2 separate regions of the Homo sapiens genome follow, and region 2 is linked to region 1. The links come from fine-mapping of genetic effects on gene expression. Tissue or cell type: whole blood. Region 1 holds a variant in brackets; the other region holds the start of a gene. All regions are shown on one strand. Distances are from middle to middle.

What was found. PIP is the estimated chance that this variant, and not a neighbour inherited with it, causes the effect.
Region 2: it holds the start of CA8, and the variant in region 1 is fine-mapped to the expression of CA8 in whole blood (TOPMed, PIP above 0.99).

Annotation. Positions count from the first base shown.
Region 1 is chr8:60,384,214-60,386,970 of GRCh38, reverse strand. No RefSeq gene overlaps it. Among named protein-coding and RNA genes, the nearest start is that of LINC01301, 28 kb to the left of the region's middle. The variant G/C (reference allele first, on the strand shown) is at 1,525.
Region 2 is chr8:60,280,200-60,282,956 of GRCh38, reverse strand. It overlaps CA8 (carbonic anhydrase 8), which reads left to right and starts at 1,557. Exons shown (of 9, transcript NM_004056.6): 1 at 1,557-1,909. The coding sequence starts at 1,810. RefSeq lists a silencer at 1,374-1,582 and an enhancer at 1,575-2,081.

The DNA of each region.
Region 1 (2,757 bases):
GGAGAGGATTCCTTGAGCCCAGGAGGTTGAGCTGAAGTGACCGGTGATCATGCCACTGCACTCCAGCCTGGGTGACAGAGCAAGACTCTTTCTCAAAAAAAAACAAAAAAAAACACTTTAACTAACAATAATGCCCACTATTTATGTAATGTTGGTGTGTCAGGTACTGTAATAAATGCTTGCCATATTTTAATTAACTATCACTTCACAAAGTTTTACTTCATTCCCACATATATAACACTATCTTCATTAGTCAGTGATTTGATATAAGTCCAGAGCTCTTCTTTGATTATGAGTTCATTGATTATGAGTCCATTGATTGGAAGTTCTGTAGTTTTTTTTTTTGCATAAAATACATCTATAATGCCTCATTTATAATTTCTAAAATGTCTGGGATATAAGCACACCTGCAATGGAATTTGAGGGCAGAATCTTTTTTTTTTTTTTTTTTTTTTTGAGACGGAGTCTTGCTCTGTCACCCAGACTGGAGTGCAGTGGTGAGATCTCGACTAACTGCAAGCTCCACCTCCCAGGTTCACGCCATTCTCCTGCCTCAGCCTCCCAAGTATCTGGGACTACAGGCACCCGCCACCACGCCAGGCTCATTTTTTGTATTTTTAGTAGAGACGGAGTTTCACCATGTTAGCCAGGCTGGTCTCGATTTCCTGACCTCGTGATCCACCCGCCTCGGCCTCCCAAAGTGCTGGGATTACAGGTGTGAGCCACTGCGCCTGGCCGAGTGCAGAATCTGTTTAGATTTTTAAAACTTCTCCCATACCAATTTTTCTAGCTCATCACCAACAACTGATTTGACAGTATTTTTAAGCGATTTGTCTTTTATTTTTTGCCTTTGTATTTTACGGGTATATAACATGTTTGTTTTGTAATTAAAATAGCAACTAAAATTGGCACATTTAAAAACAAACGCAATTGTATTTTGGTGGTGAACCACTGGCAGGTGGGGCTTTATCTTCCTGTGGGCGTGCTTGCATGGGGGATTCTGGGAGTGTGCGGAAAAGATAATGACACTAAAGGGAGCTGGGAAGATCTTTTTCCCTCTGGAAATGCTGAATAAACTTTGTGTTACGTGCCTGTGTTTCTACTGCGACTCATCACATGAGGTCAGGTGTGAAACTTTCAGCTTTCCACTAGTGGCATCATGTTGGCATTCAAAAAGTTTCAGATTTTAGAGCATTTTGGATTTCAGATTTTCAGGATTTTAGGAATGTGCAACCTATAATAGGAATCTCGGAAGACAGTACAGAAAAAATGGGTGGGAGGAAATATTTCGAGAAATAACAAAATAGGTTTTCCTACAGCTGAATGACACTAGTTTCCCAGAACAATGAATAGATAATAGACTCATTTCAACTTACCACTGTAAAGTTTCCAGAAAAATATTAAAAGAGAACAAGAAATTTCCAGAGATAAAGAAAACAAATAAGCAAAAAAACAAGGTCACTTATAAAAGAACAAAAATCAGACCATCTTTTGAACTTCCCCTCAGCAACCCTGGATTTCTAA[G/C]AAATACTGGTATGAACTTCCTCTTCTTTTCTTTTTTAAGAGACAGAGCTGCCCCGTGTTGCCCAGGCCGGAGTGTAGTGATGCGATCTTACCTCACTGCAGCTTTGAGTTCCTGGGCGTGGCACAAGCAGTTCTTGAACTCCTGGCCTCAAGCGATCCTCCTGCCTTGGCCTCCCAAGCTGCTGGGATTACAGGCGTGAGCCACTGCACCCAGCTGGAATGCACATTCTAAGTTACAAGGTAAAACTATTTTCAATCTCACATTATATACTCAGCAAAGCTCTCAATCAAGAATGAGGGTAGAATGAACAGCTCTTCAGGTATGTAGGATTTAGGTTTACTTGTTCCATATAGTTTCTTAGGGAGTTACTTGGAGGACATAGTCCAGCTAAAGAAGGGAGTAAATCAAGAAAGAAGGCATGGGGTCCATCTCAGAGGAATAACAAAATAAGGTTCCCGCATCATAGCTAAGGAGCATATCTGCAGACCCTCAGTCTAGATGGAGGCACAAAGAGGGAAAGATCTGGAAAAATGGGAGGCTGACGATTTGTGGGATCTTTGAGAAACTGGAAAAGTAAAGATTTGATAAAGGCAAGCAATGCAAAGAAGCAACTGAAGCAGAAGAAAGAGGAGAAATAGGAAAAGGGAGAGGAGGAGGAGGAGGAGAAACTCTTAAAGAACACGAAAATTTGGAATGTAATAATAATACTTGGCTGTACAGACAATAATATTACATAGTCATAATAACATAAATACTGTTTGCTGATTTTCAAATTTTCAGATCAAATAACAAGGGAAAGAAGACTTGATTATGTATACACACACAAAAAGAAAGTGTTATCAAAACTGACAAGAAAAAGTAAGTCAAGGTACTTAAAGTAGTGCTGGAAGTTATAAGGTAAGGTGGGGAGAAAAGAAGAAAGAGGTTGGGCGTGGTGGCTCACGCCTGTAATCCCAGCACTGTGCGAGGCTGAGGTGGGCGGATCACGAGGTCAGGAGATCGAGACCATCCTGGCTAACACGGTGAAACCCTGTCTCTACTGAAAACGCAAAAAAAAAAAAAATTAGCTAGGCATGGTGGCAGGCGCCTATAGTCCCAGCTACTCGGGAGGCTGAGGCAGGAGAATGGAGTGAACCCGGGAGGTGGTGCTTGCAGTGAGTGGAGATCACGCCACTGCACTCCAGCCTGGGCAACAGAGCAAGACTCAGTCTCAAAAAAAAAAAAAAAAAAAA
Region 2 (2,757 bases), 100 kb after region 1:
GTTAATATTTTCAGTAGTGCTTATTATTTTTAATAGCTCTGGCTTTGGGGTAGGCTTCTGCTTCTGCCAGTCCCAGGCTTGCAAAGATGCAAACGACCGTCCACTAAAGAACACCCAGAATGCAGTGAGTGAAAAATGAATTTAGTTTCTCAAACTGTTTCAGTCCTCTGCACAGTTAAGGAAAAGAGAAATTATATGAATGCTTAAAATCCACCGGTTATCCTCCAAGCTAATGTTGGCCAGTAGTTTTCCATATATTTGGTTAAACCTTCCAGAAAGTGGCAGAATTGAGCGAGTTGAGGGTTCCCCCCACTTCTTTCCATCTCAGTGTACTTTCTGGAGCAGTTTGTAATTTTTTTTTTTTAAAAGCTATGAAGTGTCTTTTTAAAAAGTGGAGGTGCTTAGCAGGCAGTAAAGGATATGAGCACTGAAACTAAACATTCCCAAACGGATCATTTCCATCCTTATTTGAGGAATTATGCATTCATAAGGCTGGTGTGATTTAGGAACAGGTTATTCAAAGTGCAAATAGATATCTTCATGAATGACCAGAGCATATAAAAAACAAATTGTACTTAAGGTCCTAACTCGAGTTTATTGTGCACATATATCTTCTAAAAATGTGGAGTTAACCTACTTAGGGGTTACTGACCAGGGCTTTTAAAAGGCACAGGAACAGAGGGCTGAAGTCGTTAACACTAGACTGAGAAGCACGTTTAAGGGTAACAATGCCACCTCTTTGGATCAGAAGAGTTCCTGTTTGTTATGCAATGTGTGCACTTCATTATTTACACGATTTCACTAGGTGAATGGGAGCTGTGTACACAGCCAGGTGAGCCTGCAGCAGCGCCCCAGACTCTGACAGCGAACACCCTCTGTCTACTGCCTTCTGCTAGCCCTGCTTTGAAACAATACCCTTTTCTGGAAAAAAAAAAAAAAAAAACACAACCCTAAATCATAGCTACTTCTCTAGATAACAACCATTTTCTTTTCTTAAACGTTTTTAGGAATTAATAGAACTTTCTTGGAAAAATTTCCAAACTCGTTTCCACTGCGCTGAACGGACGATTTAAAAAGTAAATACTCAGAAGATACTAAGAAGATTCCGCTGGAGAGTCTCTTTTTATTGTGTTACGGGGTCTCCTAGCCCTCTCCTTTCTCCTACCCACGGCAGCCCATCTCTCTCCTCCAGGACCCCTTCTTTTTGGTATTTCCTGGAGTACGGATGAAAATGAATAGGTGAGCAGCCTCTGGGCTAGGCCAGGCACACAGGGGTCCCGAGTGACCTTGGGAGACTTGCGGGCTTCTGGAAGGAAGGCTCGGGCGGCCAAGCAGGAGTCGCCGCAGCGAGGAAGCGCCAGGAGGCGGCGGGGGCGACCCCGGGGGAAGGGCGGGCGGGGATGCGCCGAGGTTTCCGTGACTTGGGACTAGTCGCCCCGAGGCGCATTCTAACTGTCGGCTCCCCTGGCCCCAACGGCCAGAGAGAGAAGGGGGCGGATCCTCGCGTACCAGACACGCCCCGGTCGGGTATAAAATTCGCCAGGCGCTCGCTCCCCAGGCCACAGCCGCTCCCTCGCTCTGCTGGGGCCTCCGGACGCGCTTCCCACGCGGGTCTCTGGAACACTCGGTCCGAACGCACGCCTGCTTGCACTCACACTGCGGTTCACACCCGGAGGCGCTCTCGCACTCACACTGCCGCTCACGCGTGCTCACACTCCCCCACGCGCGCTCCGCTCCGGCTCCAGCCCCGCGCCCAGCGAAGGCGCAGGCACTGCTGCCGAGAGCGCCGAGGGGCCCCGCGGCCTTCCCATGGCGGACCTGAGCTTCATCGAAGATACCGTCGCCTTCCCCGAGAAGGAAGAGGATGAGGAGGAAGAAGAGGAGGGTGTGGAGTGGGGCTACGAGGAAGGTAAGTGGCCGCGAGTCGGGGTGTCCGGGGTCCCGCGGCGGCGTCAGTGTCTCGCCGAGCGCGGGACTCGAGTCCTGCTGCCGCTGCGCGCTCCGAGCACCCCCACGCCCCCTCTTTCCCACGGGGGTCTCTGCCACTTTCCCACTCCCCTGGTGCGTTTCGGGCGGGAGGCGCTCCAGGGAGGCGTGCTCGCCGCCTGCGCTCTTCCGCCGCCTGCGCTCTCACCCGGGAGCCTTCCGCAGGGCTGGCGTTCGCACCTGCTGCGGTCCGGAGGGCGGGCTAGCCTCCAAGCCGTGGCTGTACCTTTTATGTCTTCTGAGTAGTCAAGAAGAGCAGCGGTACATTTTACTAAACACCTGAGGAAGACAGTGTTAGCGTGAAGAATTCGTTTTTGGCTTGGAGACTTTGGGGAGAAAGTGTTTCTGCCTCTGGTCTTTTCGTGAAGCCTGCTAGCAATGCTCAAGTCTTTCTAAAACATGTCCTAAATTTCAGACTGAATCATTGGGTTTGGCGAGAAGCGGTTGACTTTCTGAAAAACTCGAGTTTCCTAGATTTATTCCTAAAGACCTAGGGCTCCTATTAGAGCCAACCAGTAGTGCTGATGTTTACTACATATGTTGAAACCAATATAGAATATATAATTTTAATTATAAAAAATTTGGAAAGACTATGGGAATATGTATGTACACAGATATATACATATGCACACTTTAAAATACTACACTTGCATTTCTGATAAGGGGCGTCTATTTACTAGCATGAGAGTTAGGGTTCTGACTGTCACTAAGTATGTTGAAAGTTACAGCTGTTTCCCAGGTACTGAACGTAATTGAACTAATAAGCAGAAG